Linked DNA regions of Homo sapiens. The protein of the gene in region 1 interacts with the protein of each later gene in a pairwise test. Each region holds a gene or a part of one and is shown on either strand. Other genes may lie near its edges. The genes, in order: CD300C and UNC93A.

Region 1 (8,746 bases):
GCTGTGTGGTTCCCTGCTGTGACCCAATCCCAAAAGGAGCGCCTGACACTTAATAGAACCTTCACGTTTGGTGTGGGAGGTGCGAACAAAGAAGGGACTGGAAGAAGGGACATCCGAGTCCCCTAAACATCACACGCAGTGGGGAGGCCGCCAGCGTGGCCCAGTCCTATGCGCAGGCACCTTACCCAGGGTGTGGGCTGGGTTCGGGGCTGTCCTTTCTGGTCACGCTGGGCCAGGTGTGCACGGGCAGCTTCGTGGGAGGACCTGAGGTGCCCATGGAGCTCTGGGGGCTGGAGGCTGTGGTCGTCCCGGCTGTGGGTGAAACACAGGTCAACCTTGATGACATCACATGGGTCTCCCACTTACTCTCACCTGTTCTGCTCCAATTTTCACAGACAAGGTCACCAATGATGTGCTGGACAGATGCCCTGCATCCATCATGCCCCACGGCCACACCCAGGCCTGACCAGGGTCCTGGGCCTCTCCTTGTCCCATCCCTAGGTACTGCAGAGCCAGGACACCATTTCAGATGTGAGAGCTGCCCTGCTCACCTGTGGCAAAGGTACGGGTCTCCAGGTTTCACCCCAGCCAGGGAGGGACAGGGTGACCTGGGGGAATGGGGTGATGTTTACTCTGCGAAGGGTGACCCAGAGTGACTGCGAAGCCAGGGCCCTGGGCACAGCAGTGGCTGGAGAGAGGCTGGAAGTGAGGACAGGAAGTCAGTGGGGTCCTCCCTGAACGATGGGACCCGAGTCCACTCAGCCCCAAATGGCAGCCATGCTGCGGCCCCACAAGGCCATTGGACCATCCTCTCAGCAGGAGGGAATGCCCAGGAAGAAAGATCTAGAGAGGGGATGCCCGGTGAAGCCTGGGCGGCGGCCCGTGGTGAATACAGCTGGATAAGGGCCCTTTCCTCCTCTCCCTGGCGCCCTCAGGTGGGATCTTAGCTCCTCACTCCTAGATAGGAAGGCACAAAGGGCGCAGGAGGGACACGTCGCCCCCGGGGAAATGGAGAACAAGAAGATGCTCCGAGGAACCTGGGACATTGTCAGAAGAAAACGATGGAAAAGCAACCACACTGAGGCCACTGGGTTTGTGTCTTGTGAGACAGGAGGGGGCCTTTGAGGGAAGAATGATCTTCGGCACGGGAAAGGGCCCTCAGGTCCGTGCCAGTCTCAGCTCATTTCCATCCACAGGTCCCTTTGCCTGAGGGGGCAATTTCTGGGGTTCCCTCCTGTGGTAAAAGGTGCCAGAGAATAAGGGGGACACACAGGTCAGCCTCAGGGGCAGGATGTGGTTCCCAGGAGCATGAGAACCCCACCCAGGGCTCTGGGGCTCCTTCCTGTGTCCTCCAGTGGCTGCTGCAGGAGCTCCCAGGACAGGGCTGTGAGGCTGCGGCCTCAGGACCCTCCAGACAGGGCGGCATCCATGCAGGCCCCAGGGCAGGGGCAGCCTTGAGTGAGAGGAGCCAATGATGGGGGGGTCCAATTCCCCGTGGGGAAGAGCGAGTTAGACCCAGGCGGGACAGTGGGCACCCTTCAGTATGGATCCGGCCCTTGTCAATACAGGGAGGTAGCAAGGACCCCAGAGTCAGGGGTGGCCTCACAGACCCCACCCAGGAAAGTTTCAGGCCTGAGGCCGTGAGGGAGGGCCCACAGCGGGGGGTCTCCAGCCACAGGGCCAGGGTGCTTTTGTGGGCGCCCACCCTCCCAACACACACATGCAGGTGCACACACACACAAACCACACCACAACTCCTATGCAGGCACGCATACACAAAGACGCACTCACACTCATCCACACACAGCGGCACACAGTGTCCTGACTCACCAACCCCCAGGCTCACACCCTCCTGTTCCACTTCTTTCTTCAGGGACAGAATGACCAGCCCTAGGCTCAGGCAGGCCTGGTGCTGAGAAAAGGAGGGGCTCACCCGGGAACACGGACACCTCAACCTCGACAATGGGATCATGAAAGTCTCGGAGCCACGGTGTATCCACCCCACACCAGTAGGTGCCTGCGTCCTCCTCTGTGAGATTCTCCAGGGTCACTGTGAAGCTGAGGTTTGCAGGACTGTCCCTGATGGACACTCGGCCATTCCTTTTCCCTGCTGACCCTTTGGTCTCCACAATCTTGTCACATCGGAGAATCTGTGGTGGTCTGCACCAGAATTTGTTGAGGGTCCTGTGTTCCTTCTCATAGCGACACTGCACACTCAGGGATCCCCCCACGGGGCCCGCCACGGTCATGGGGTGGCTCAGAGGAAAATAGCCTGAAAAATACAAGCCAAAATCCTGTCTCCTTACCAGAGGGGCCTGGTCAGGGGTGCCGCAGTGTCAGCCCCTCATGGACCCTGGGCGTGTGGAGAAGGCAATGGCAGGCAGGCAGCCTTTGTCCACCCAGGAACAGGGACTGAGGGTGGGAGGCTCCCTCTGTGCAGAGGTGGGAAGGGCATGGGAAGTTTCCATGGAGACTGGAAAGGCAAGGCTAGGGAAACACTGGGTGTGTGCGGGCCTGTGTGTGCATGTGAGTGTGACTCTGTGTGTGTGACTGTGTGAGTGTGACTGTCTGTGTGAGTGTGACTGTGTGTGACTGTGTGTGCATGTGTGACTGTGTGTGCATGTGAGTGTGACTGTGTGTGCATGTGTGACTGTGTGCATGTGTGTGTGAGACTGTGTGAGTGTGACTGTGTGTGCATGTGTGTGAGACTGTGTGAGTGTGACCGTGTGTGCGTGTGAGTGTGACTGTGTGTGTGATCGTCCCAGATAAAATTTGTGATTGGATAACTTTGGCAATGACAGTCACAGCATCACCTCCCACCAGGGCTTCCTGTCTCGGGCACAGAGGAATAGGCCTCCCCCGTGCTGTGCCCTGCCGCCTGCTGTCCCCTGGTGAGGCAGCTGCTGACCGCTCCTGGGTGCTCCTTTGCCCTCCTCCCCTCTCCCTGCCCCACTCCCCTCTATGACCGCTACTCCAGCGCCTGCACCCCTCCCTGCCCTCTCCCACTCAGGACAGAGCTCCCCAAGTCCAGGGTCGGCCCACTCACCTGGGACAAGCAGGAGGAGCAGAGCTGAAGACCGCCACGAGGCCCAGGCCCTGGCAGTCATTCCTGTAACACGAATGTCACCTGCCACTGTGCAAGACCCCAGGAGGGGACAAAATGTAATCTCCTCCCAGCAGATCTGAGCTTCGCTTCTGCTTTTCTTCTGCTCTCTGCTTCCTTGTCCAGCCCTGTCTCAGGTCTGAGGCTGGAGAGGGTCAGGGTACAGGAAGCTCAGGGAGAGAGCCGCCTGGGCTGAGGCCGGTGCTGACAGCTCTGGGATGGTGCTAGTGGCTCCTCTCAACCCTGACGTCTGGCAAAGTCCAGGGTCCCTTGGGTGGCGATGCAGCCACTTCCCCACAGCCCACAGCTTCTGGCTTCAGTGTGTTACTCACACTGCAGAAGGCAGAGCCAAGCTGGGCCATTTCCTACCACATGGGCTGCTCCACCCTCTGTGACATGTCACTTCCTGGTCAGGATGGACAATCTTGTGGTTGGAGGCTAAATCTGCCACCTTCTTTAGCCTTGGAGGTGACCAGAGAGAGGTTGTGTCCCTTAATCTTCAGCTAGGTCCCCGCAGAGACCTCTGCCCCTAAGACCCCCAGCTCTTCTTCTGGCCTCAGAAGTTAGCGCTATGAACCCAGACACCATCTGCATGTCCCTTTTTGGTGCTGAGTCCCCAACCAGGTTAAAATCCCACAGGCTTGGGGAGTTTTCCTCTTGTGCCCCTGCCCCCAGACCTACACACACAGCGGCATCACCCACCCGAGACCCTCCTTTTCCATCTTGTCTTCTTGCCAAAATCCATGCCCCAGTGGGAATCAGGGCAGAGAACTGAGAATAGAGAGAGAGTTCAGACATGTGAAGATGCTGAAGTGGGACTTTGTGGAGGATGTGAGGCTGCGACTGAGCCAGCACACACCCCAGGGCACACGGAGGGGTGTTTGGTGACTGAGAGGACAGTTTGTCATGAGCAGCGGCTGCTGGTGTCTATCCTGGGTCCACTGTGATGGCCAGGGGCCTCCGCAGGGAGCAGACATGGCAGACAGGCCTTCCCAGGAGGCGGGAACCCAGGTCTATCCACACTCGGCATGGCTGGTTCTCCTGACGTGATGGGCTCAGGGTGTCTTTACCCTGGAAAGGGCAAGGAGGCTAGTCAGACACAGGATTTACCTCCTGTCTGTCCTGGAGGGCATCACCCCTTCTCCACCTTCTCATGCCTTAAGCATATTCCTTGACTCTCCCAACCCTCCTACAGATTTCTGTTCCTTTCTTCCTATCAGAGTCAATAGCACCAGTATGTGCACACAGCCATGAGGTTGAGTGGAGAGTGATGGGAGTCTGGGCAAACCTGGCACCATGAAGGGGTCTCTGCACCCTCGACCTGCCCTGTCCTCCCTCCATTTACACTCTCAGGGACACAGCATGCACTGGGGTCATTGGTGTTGATGCCCCCAGACTCACATCATGGGACTATCTCTAGCCCAGTGCAATCCCAGGGCCTCCAATTAGCCCAGTGCTCAGGTCTGGCCTGGGCCTGGCTTTGAAGTATCCCGGCTCTTTCATGGGCTGACCTGGTCTCCCCTTCTGCTCATACCCACCCCTTTCATTCTCCACAGAATCAGCAATGTGATCCCTGACACACACACATGGCCCTGGGGAGGCGCTGCTGAACTCCCAATGGCTCCTGCTGTCACAGGATGGCACCCACCTGACCTGGCCTCTGCACACAGGTCCTGGCAGGCCCCAGCACCTGGTAGGTGTCTCCAGCCTCCTGGATCCAGGTTCACACTGGTGCTGCCACCCTCCCCACTCGGGCCTTTGTCCAGACCCTCAACCTCCCACTCCTCTGCCTGGCTCCAGCCGACAGGGTTGCCTGCGTGTTCCTTGACCTTCCCGGGTTATGGTGGCTCGCTTTTTAGGGGTCCTCATGACCCATTTCACACTTCCCTCTCGTCTTCCTCAGTCTTTCTGTTGGCGAGTCAATGTCTGCTCCCATCTAGGGTGGCCGCCCCTTGAGAGCAGGTGCAGCCTCTTGTCTCATTCACAGCTGTGCCCGTTATCATTCCAGAGTCTGCCAAGTGCAGTTTAACAAACTGGCTGTTGAAAGGATGAATGGGTGAATGGATACATGACATCCTGATGTCCCACTGCCTCAGAGGACTTAGTCATCCAAAGTTGGTGCACCATTTCCTGCCCAGGCTGGGGAGGAGACAGGAAATGCTGTCTGGAGGCCCTGAAGCCACCTGACCCAGGGAGGCATCTGCCCCTGGCAGGACATGTGCACCTGCTCCTCTCTCTGCCTCAGGGCTCCTCCTCCAGGGATCCTGGCGCTCACCCCCTCCTTTCTCCTGATCCCTGCTTGCTCAGCGCCTATTAGAGGGGCTTCACCACAGTCCCCCTCAGCTCCTGCACAGCAGTCACCCCACTTCTCTTATTTCATTCCGTGACTCTTTTCATCTCTGACTTTTATATTTCTTCTGGAATTTATGCACGTATTTTTGCATCTGTTTATCATTTCTATCCCCCGCCTGGAATATGAGCTCAATGAAAACAGAGCTCCTTGCCTGGGTGTTCACGGCTGGACTCCAATGCCAGGTCAGTGTCTGATACACCAGAAGCTCCCATAAGTATCTGCTGAATGTAAAAATAGGTGAGGACCCCCAGGCGTGTCCCTCCTTGACCTGGTGGACTCATGGGGATCATCTGCCTCACAGGGGTCTTGGGTGTGGCATCCCTGGAACCGAAACGATGGTCAGCTGATAACGTCTTCCTTTGTCTGGATAAGCAGACATGGTCTGCACTAGTAAGCAAAAGACTCAGTTAACTACCACATTAAGAAGTCACGGCCCTCAACCAATTTCCATATTTGAGTCAGTTAAAAGCCACAGCCCTGGAATGAAGGGGAGGTCAGGTCCCCTTGAGGAAGGAGGAAGGAAAGGCCTGGCTACCATGCCACAACTCACACTGATAATCTTCTACCAGCCCTCCCGCAGGGACCAGAAGACACTGGCCAGGATGTGTCTACATAAGGAACGGAATTGTCAGGTTTTGGGGGGAATCCTGGATCCTCTTCTGCAGGGACCCCAGTCCTGAGAGGCCCAGCCTGGGGCTTAGTCCACTATTCTGAGCAAAGGCCTGTGGAGATCAGGGAACAATGGAGTTTTCACCCAGGTCTGACTTAGTGGGCATGATAGGTCCAGAATCTATGTATTGTCATTTCTTAAAGTTCGAAAGCATCATTGAATTGACACACTCAGCAAATGGAAGCAGCCACATATTCTGCACTCCTGGACCCGGGGAGTGTGGGCCATTATGGTGGCAAAGGTGCAGGGGAGTCCTGGACCTGCTCCTCCCTGTGAAAACGTTGAAGGAAGCAATGCCAAGCTCCTGGAGAAATGGAAAGGTGCAGAGAGGGCATCAGGCACTTAGAGGTGTTGGTGACAGCTCGAGGTTCAGCTGGCCAGGGCGTGCACATGAGACATGGAGTCACAGCTCAGGGCGTCTGTGTCCATCAGGTTCACGTGTGATTCATGGATCAGGCACAGGGAAAAGGCTGAAGGAGGCTCACAGAGAATTCCAGGAGATGTGGAGAGAGCAGCCCGGGAGGGAGTGGTCAGGAGGTCATTCCAGTCCCGCAAAGGGGTTCTGTCGCAGTGCAGGGCCTTGATGGACAGTAGATGCTACTGGTTCTCACCCTCTGGCCAACTCTGCCTGCTTCCAGAGCTTCTCTGAGGTCCGTTCACCCAGACGACGGCACCCAGCATGCTCAGGAGCAGGGGCAGCTCCAGGACCAGGAGCAGGACGTAGGGGCTGCTGAACAGGGAGCTGTGGGGACACGGTGATGGCAGTGAGTCATCTCCCCAGGGGAAGCCCAGGTGCCCTCCACCTTCTGCCTGTCTGTGAACCCAGGTCCTGTGGCCACACAAATCCCTGTGAGGACAAACTCTGTATATGACAACTCCTCTAAAGAGATCATTAGACCCTGACCTTCAGCCTGAGAGTCCCTGGAGTCTCAGGACTGCCTATAAGGAAGCACGTGGCCGTGAAAATGGTGCATGAGGACAGGGAGGGATCCAGGTGAGAACCACACCCACAAGATCTCTACATCCCGGGGTTATTCACTGGCGCATGGAATCAGTCATGTAGTTTGATGCCTGTATGGCCATCATTTCCCGAGAAGGTGAGGACTATTCATGTTATTCACAAGTAACTGGTACCTGCCCTCTGGTTGCAAATATCAGCCTGTAAAATTCATGGTTGTTGAAGGAATGGAAGGAATGAATGAATGGCCCAGCTCAGCTCTCAGCTCCTCAGAGGACTGGGCTCATCAAACAGGATGAGACTCGGGCCAGGGCTGCAAGGGAGGCCAGGGGAGAGGGCCGGGGTCACCGGGCACCAAAACATCTGCCCCCTGCCCTGGCCTGGCCGGGTCCCAGGACTCCCTTGCAGGACATTTGCCTCACTCCTCCCTCTGCCTGGACCCCTCTTCCCCCAGACCCCAGAGCGCCCTGCTCCCAAATCCTGCAGGTCTCCACGCTCATGTCCTCTAATCCACAAACCCTCTTCTGATCATTGTCAGTGAAATAGCGACTCCAACACCCACACACATGCTCCCCAAACCCAAGGCACAAATATCTCTTCCCAGCAGTCATCAAACTTCGCTGTATTTGTCTGTCAGCCACTGTGCTGACCTGTTCACTGTGTGAATCCACCTGGTAGAACCCAAACTCCACCAGAGCAGGACTGTGGCTGAGTGGTTCCCTGCTGTGACCCTATCCTGACAGGAGCACCTGGCACTTAGTAGGACCTTCACATTAGGTGTGGGAGGCGTGAGCAAAGAAGGGACCAGAAGAAGAGAGACACAACCATCCCATCTCTCCCCAGCCTACAGGAAAGGCTGCCCAGGTGGCAGTCCTGGGGGCACGAACCTTACCCTGGGTGTGGGCTGGGATCAGGGCTGTCCTGTCTGGTAGAGCTGGGCCAGGTGCACGCTGGGACGTAACGGGAGGACCCGAGGTGCCCGTGGAGCTCTGAGACTGGAGGCCGCTGTCAGGGCTGCAGGGGCATCACAGGTCAGTCTCGGCGACCTCGCCTGAGTCTCCCACTCATCATCACCTGTTCAGCTCTGATTTCCACAGACACGATCACTCAGTACATGCTGGACAGATGCCCTGAGTCCAACACGTTCCACGGCCACACGCAGGCCGGACCAGGGCCCTGGGCCCCTCCCTAGTCTTATCCCCAAGTACTTCATAGCCAGATGAGCACTTTCAGAGGCAAGAGTCAACCTGCTCTCTAGGGGAACGTGAGAGTCTGTGGAAAGAAGACCTGGCTGCAGACCCCATCCCAGCCAAGGAGGGAGGGGTGACATTCACTCTGTGAAGCGTGACCTAGAGTGACTGCGGAGCCAGGGCCCTGGGCATGGCAGTGGCTGGAGTGAACTGGAAGTAAGGACAGGAAGTCAGTGGGGCCCTCCCTGAATGATGGGACCCGAGTCCACTCAACCCCAAATGTCAGCCAGGCTGGTGGCCCCACAAGGCCAGACACTTTCAGGGTGGGGCACACAGAGGAGTCTCCAACAACAGGTGCAAATGTGCTTTTGTGCATGTCAGCACACACACACACGGGTGCACACACACAAACACACCACACAATTGTGCAAGCACACACACACCACACCTGCGCACGCACACACACACACCA
Region 2 (7,265 bases), on another chromosome or scaffold:
TGATGTCGCCTCTGAGTCTGATGTATTTTCTCTGAGCATTTATTCAGATTCATGATGCAAAACTGGAAAACCACCCAAGGTTCCTTCTGGGCACCATTCCCTCAGGATGATGTGGTTTTGCTTAAGTCAAGTCGCCCATTCGAGCTGGGGTGCAAGACTCTCTACCCCTAGGACAGCAGTCTCTTCATGACTGAAAACCTTTATTCAGATGTGCTTGTGAGCAGAGGCACACTCCCGTGTACCTGGGCCTGGGGTGTAAACATGCAGAGCCTTCCAAGGAGCCCACGGGACGATGGGAGGTGGCAGTGTGAGCCACAAGCCACACACATCACAGGTCACTAGGGTCAGTGTCTGTGGACGGGGCTCTGGGGCATCCTGGGCAGTGGTGGGTTTTCTGGGAGCAGCAGGTGGGGGCCCTGTGGATGTGGGGGAGCAGGGGAGGCCAGGGTGGGCTTCCTCCTAGAGGCTACATCTGCATCACGTATGGGCTGACCACTGTCCAGGTGGGGTGGGGTGCAGGAGGAACCAGGGCAGGAGGTGGCAGGGATGCTCCAAGGCCTTGCTGGGGCTGGGGCCCCTAAGAAGGCGGCCTGGGGGGAGTGCAGAGGAGTGGGGTGGAGTGGCAAGTCGGGTCCCCAAGTGTGGGGCCAGCATGTGGGGGAGGGTCAGATGCACCTAGGTCACTGGAAGCAGCAGAAAGCGCTGACACCCAGGAGTGACTGGGAGCTATGTGGAGTCGGCCCCGTGTCACAACAATCAATTCCAAAAGGCAGGTGACAAGGTCCAAGGTGCGGCCCTGTGGGGAGCCGGGAGGGCTGGTTGTCGGATAGAAGGTGACATCCCATGATGATGGCAGGAGCCAAATGCCAAAGTCCTCACAGAATAGGGTGGCCTGGCCAGGAGGTCAGGCAGGGCAGTGAGGACACGGATGGGAGATGAGCGGGAGCCAAGGAGCCAAGCAGGAGCCAGGGAGGAAGGGGCCCCAGGCTCAGGCAGCTGCACTAGAGAGGCCTGAGGGCAAGAGAGCTGGAAGGGGACATGGCCGTTGCACCTGTAATCCCAGCTACTCGGGAGGCTGAGGCAGGAGAATCACTTGAACTCCGGAGGCAGAGGTCATAGTTAGCCGAGATCGCACCACTGCACTCATGCCAGGCTCTGCTGAGCTCCGAGGTGCTTTGTGCGGGCTGGCTGTGTTTTCCACAAGGAGATGCGTGAGAGCGTTTTGGAGGAAGGTCACTAGGAAGAGAAGGAAGCTGGGGCAGTGTGTGTGGCCGCTTGCCGGAGGGTGTGCGTACTGGGTGGTGTTGAAAATGACACAGATGAGGACTTAGGGTAGGAACCCTGAATTTCCCAAAAAACCCCATCTAAGGCCCCGAGGGGTGTCAGAGGCCCAAAGAGGCAAGACTGCGTGTCTAAGAGATGCTGATGAGGTGAGATGAAGTGTCCTCTCGGAGGTGAGCATGGCTCACATGAGACCCTCTTCCCTTCAGGAGAGACTTCACCATTCTGCCTTTATCTGGGAAACACTCGGGGCTTAGAAAATGGAAAAAGCAAACCCACAAACGAACTACAGGCCAATGTTTCTGAGATGACAGACCTGGCTGCTGTCCCTGCACTGAGGATAAAGAGCACATGTGACCTCAGATCGCGGACAGAACACTCCAGCCACGTCCTTTCTTGTCTTCCTGGTGGGTTGCGTATCCACAGGACAGCTGAAAATCACCTTTGAACAAACCCACACTGTTGGATTTAAGGAGCCGTGTTTCACAGTCCTTTCTGCTGCCCCAGTAATGCAGGTGGACCTAGTGAAGCTCTTCACCAAAATGCGTGTGTACTTGGCCCAGCGCCACACTCTGGCTTGTTGGGATCAAGGCCTGGAGGCTGGAAGGGGTAGACTGGACCCGAGGCCAGGCCGGGGCATTGCTTAACAGAACAAATACTGATTTAATGGAGGGGAGACAAACAGCAACTCACTTTGGTGTTCTTGGCAGTGCAGAATTATAAGCTAGTGGCATGTCACCTCGCTGCAGGACTCTTAGCTACGTTACCAATAAGCATCAAACAGTATTTGTTTAAACTGTCCCCTGGATGTGTGGCAGAGCCGGTGTTTCACTGAGCTCCCCAAATGCACATCCCATTACCAGAAGTGCACCATGACTTATCTGAACTTACATGAATTTTAAAATGTATTTACACATTAAATGAAAAGGAGAACACTGGGACAAATATCCCCACAATATTCCATACGATAATTCCCTAAATGCTCCCAATGAATGTGATCATTCATATTTGGTTTTTGTTCTTCCTGAGCTATGTGAACAGTGGACTTAACTCTCCTTTTCCTTATATGGACACATGATACTCTCAGGGAAAGCCTTGTTGAATTGTGCAAACAAAGTTACCTAAGGTCAAACAAAGAGTATCAACGTCCAAGTCCGGTGAATGACTGGAATAAAGACTCCCTTTAATAAGGGATGCTAATTTAAATTGAAACTGTTTCTGTCTTTCTGTACAGGAAAAAGTAATTTTTTTCAAAAATAAACCAAACTGGCCGGGTGCGGTGTCTCACCCCTGTAATCCCACCACTTTGGGAGGATGAACCAGACAGATCACTTAAGCTCAGGAGTTCAAGACCAGCCTGGCCAACATGGTAAAACCTCATCTCTACTAAAAATACAAAAATTAGCCAGGCGTGATGGCACATGCCTGTAGTCTCAGCTACGAGGGAGGCTGAAGCTGGAGGATCACATGAACCTGGGAGGCAGAGGTTGCAGTGAGCTGAGATCACGTCATTGCACTGCAGCCTGGGCGACAGAGCAAGACTCTGTCTCACAAAAAAAATGTTGGGGAAAATATTTTCATATACTTGAGAAGCTCCTGTGGACTTTATACTCGCAATCGTCATGCGTGAGTGGCATTTTAGTGCCGCGTTCCTGCACTCCTGGCAGGCTGGCTCTCCATGCAGCACAGCACACACACAAGGTCTCTGTTCTCTATTTTTTGAAAAAACTGGAAATTTTATGTAGCTTTGGCTACATCTCAAGAACAGCTCTCTTCATTTTTGTTTTTCTAAGTAGCAAGTTAGATTTCTAATCCTATTCTCCCCAAATGTATGCTTTCCTTTAAGAACATATGTGGACCACGTATGTTCTTAATTAACGACACCGAATAAAACCCAATGCACTTTGTCCTCACCTTTCAGTCATCACTGCTCAATTTAAAGACTGGTCCTTACAGTCTCCCACTTAGAAGCAGGTCAGAAGACTTCACCATTTGAGCCCCTCCTTCCTGGGCCAGAATTGAGGATCCCTGGCTCACTGTCCCACTGGGCTCCAGCCATCCCCTGGCCTCTGCAAGGGGAGATCTGTGCCAGGCACTCCTCTCTGCTTATTCCCTCAGACAGCTAATGAAAGATGGGTGCAGTTGCCATGGCAACCCTTCCCCGCCAATGCGCTGCCATGAAGATACAGAATGTCTAGTCTAAAAATACTCTTTTGCTCTGTTGGCTGTTTTCAGGGTGATAAACTCAGAAAATCTCACTTCTTCAGTGCCCTATTCACTTAACCTGTCTTCTCTGACTAAACAAGATTGCTGGACTTCTCATCCACATCCTGGTCTCTTTAACCCTGGGCCACCTGGGAAGAGGAGGCAGACAGGCCAGGCTGAGAGCAATGCTTTGTCTTTCTAAATACAGCTTTTATTTTGAAATAGTTTTAGATTTACAGAAAAGTTGCAAATGTAGTACAGAGAGTCCCCTTGAAAGGTACCAACCTATAGATCCAATGCATTTACCCCGTAGGCCCTGTGCCAGCTTCCCCAAATGCTGAGCATCTCACAGAGCCACGGCACATTCGTACAGCTAGGAAGTAACGCTGCCATGTGACAGTTAGTGGGGGGACAGCCTTTATTTGGGTTCCTCCAGGCTTCCCACGAGGGTTCTTTTTTCTGTGCCAGGATCCTGTCCTGGATTCCCTGTTGGACTCAGTCATCGTATCTTCTGGCTGCTCTGTGACAGCTTTTCATTTTCCTTGTTTTTCATGACCTGGACCCTTTTGAAGAGCACCGTAGTCTGTAGGCTGTTCCTTAATTTTGGTTTGTTTGCTGTTTTCTCATGATTAGGCTGGGGCTGTGGGTTTGCGGAGGACAGCTCCCTGGTGAGGCACTTTCTTGTCCCGTCATATGGGGGATACAGGACAGGGACAGGCCTCCTCACCAGCGATGTTAACCTTGATCCCGTTGGCTCCGTGGTGCCGGCCACATCTCTCCACTGCAAACCCACTGCCTTCCCTTTCCACACGCGGTTCTGCGGGAGCGAGTGCCCAGGGAGCCAGCAGTCAAGAAGACAGCAGCTAATCTCCACCCTGAGGAATGTCTATGTGTACTCTGTAATTCTTCCATAAAAAACGCCTGTCCCTTCTCCCCGATGTATTTATTACTCAATCATTGATCTGCATCAGCATGGGCTCGTATATTTACTCTACACTTTGGGTCACCATCCAACACCACATTATTTCTTTATTAAGGTGGTAAGACACGGGGCTTATTCTAGCCCCCACTGCGTAGCTGTCGCTCCATTCTCCGGCAGCCAGAAGCCTGGTTCCCACTAGGTATGACTGCTTCCTTATGTGTTCAATCTTTTACATGTGTACAGTCATTTCAGAATTGTTGAAATACCATTTTCAGTCTACTTTCCTTTTTAAAAAATGTCTTTCCCCACTATGTCCTTAGCTGTGGGTAGTTCCATGCAATTCAAAACAATAAATGCATTGCTTTCTTTATGTTTGGATTAAAATAGGAACCAAATCTTGAGTAATTCCCTGAAAAGCCTGAGTTTAATTATCACTGGCATTGGCCTCTCCTCCCCTAGACTGGGCTGATGTCATCCACACGTGTGGCTTCCCCTTTCCCGAGTGGGACAAACGGTTTCCCCTGATTCTTCCTCCGTGTTTCTTAAAGGCAGTTCCAGCGGCTTCATCTGGGTCCTAGGCGTCTCCCTCTGTGGGTGTGGACCCTGCTTCTGTGGGTAGAGCTGGATTAGCAGACAGGCAGGAGTGAGGGTGTCACCTCTGTCTGGGGCCACACCTGTCTTCTTTGGCCTCCTCCATTCTGTTTTGTGGCCAGGGGACAGCCCACTTTCCAGCCACCTTCTGGGTCCCCAAGTCCTCCATGCTGGGGAACCTACTGTCTCCCAAACACATCTAGGTGATTTTGAACACAAGTATGTGAGCTAGAAGACAGTCTAGCTCTTTCTCTCTTTGTTGTAGATCTCCTCACTAGGTCCAGATTTTGGAACCAGAGTCAGAGAATGTCAAGTTCTTCATGTGACATGTGAGGCATTGAGGGCCCGGAAAGTTTATGTTTATGGAAAAACTCAGAGGGCCGAGGAGAACATGGCTACTTATGAAGAAGCTGAATTGGCCTTGGACCAACCAGAACTTGACGAAGGGAGATGGTGGGGGGGCTGGGGGAGTGGAGTGAGTCCCTTTCTTGGAGGACAACGATTTCTAATCACGGCAGCACAATATAAATTTCATCTTGAAATTCTTGAATGACAGCAACCCATATTCCCAAAAAGTTAGCTTAAAATTAGAGTTGCCTGTATTACTAGAATATTTATAATCTGGGTCCATTGGCTCTGGTTTTCCGACCTGCCCAGGGTGTAGCCGGGAGCTTTTAGCCACAGAACATGGCATGATCTACCACTTATAGCCATGGTGTCTCAACTTGGATTTTCTTCCCTAGAACCTTGGTTTTGGATCCCATGCTAACAGTCACCATCAAAAAACAGACAAGAGGTGTTTAGAATAGTCTCAGAAGCCAACTAAATCAAAATTTGGTTATTCAGTTCTCTTTGGTCATTACTTTTATTAAGGTGGACAATGTGCAGACTGTGGGACAAGAAGGGTGCCTTGTCCTGAGGCTTCCAAAGAGCTTCTTGTTTCCCAAACATCCATGAGCTGTTGACAGTGTGAATCTTAGGGCTCTAGCAGGGCACTCCCCTGCTGTAAGCGCATCTGCGTTGGTCTTCAGCAGTAGAGGGAGCATTCATGATGTGAGTTGTTTCGTATAAAACTCATTAACACATTTAGTGCTGGGCCTCCCCACACACGGCATTGTCTCCAGCACTAAGGGAGGGGTGGGCAGAGCGAATCTTCGGCAAGACGGTTCTTTCCACACTCCTGTGTGTCTTGCGCTGAACCAGGTGCCATGGAGTTTACAAAATTAAATGCCATCCTCCCTGCCTCAAGGACCCCATGGCTGGCAGTCTGGAATCCTCCTGGGGAACCACATGCTTCTGCCCCTGGTTTCAGGCCCTGCTGCCTGCAGTTAAGGTCACCGCACACCCTGCCTCACCGGGGCTCAGGCTGCCACTGTCCCTGCTCCTGTCCCTGCCCCCCACCTGCCTACTTCGCCTCAGGCTGTGGAGGGTTTTCCTGGGTCTCTGTGGCCAGCAGCCTGGGTGGAGCCCCAAAAGGAGCCCTGTGTTTAAATCACAAGCAGGAAAATCCTGGGGCTCCAAAATCCCTAAGCTAAAGGGAAAAGTCTAGCTGGGAACTGCTTAGCACCAACGTGCCTCCCGTTCTATTCAAAGTCACCCCTCTGCTCACTGAGAGAAATGCAGATCTGATTGTTTCCTTTGAAGAGGCTAATCAGAAACTCAAAAGAATGCCACCATTTGTCTCTTATCTACCCGTGACCCGGAAGCCCCCTCCCTGCTTCCAGTCTTCCTACCTTTGCTTGGAGTTGTCTTGCCTTTCTGGACAAAACCAATGCTCATCTTAACCAAACCAATGTTCATCTTACGTATGTTGATTGATGTCTCATGTCTCCCTAGAGTGTATAAATCTACAGTGTGTTCTGACCACCTTGGGCACATCTCGTCAGGACCTCCTGAGGCTGTGTCACGGGCACCGGTCCTCAACCTGGGCAAAATAAACATTCTAAGTTAACTGAGACCTGCCTCAGGTTTTCGGGGTTCATGCTATCATCTGGCATGTAAAATCATTCTGTTGTGAAAAAAGAAAAATGTCTTGATTTAGTTGAGAAAATGGGGCAGTGGGAAAGCTGTGCTCTTTTCACAAACAGGGTCACTGTGGGGCCCATGGCAGAGCTCTCACTCCGCTCTCTCCTCTGCAGCTCTCTACGGCGTTCTGTTTGAGAAGAGCAAGGAAGCTGCCTTCGCCAATTACCGCCTGTGGGAGGCCCTGGGCTTCGTCATTGCCTTCGGGTACAGCATGTTTTTGTGCGTGCACGTCAAGCTCTAC

What was found.
Region 2: the proteins of CD300C (region 1) and UNC93A interact in binary tests that used the Homo sapiens proteins (3 or more experiments, as listed by UniProt).

The regions. Positions count from the first base shown.
Region 1 is NC_000017.11:74,542,676-74,551,421, forward strand, and holds the start of CD300C (CMRF35-like molecule 6 precursor), read right to left. Parts: upstream 3,441-8,746; 5' UTR 3,108-3,440; coding exon 3,047-3,107; intron 2,273-3,046; coding exon 1,934-2,272; coding exon of another isoform or gene 1,831-1,933; intron 563-1,830; exon of another isoform or gene 502-562; intron 313-501; coding exon 186-312; intron 1-185.
Region 2 is NC_000006.12:167,308,050-167,315,314, forward strand, and holds part of UNC93A (protein unc-93 homolog A), read left to right. Parts: intron 1-1,490; coding exon of another isoform or gene 1,491-1,729; exon of another isoform or gene 1,730-2,547; intron 2,548-7,137; coding exon 7,138-7,265.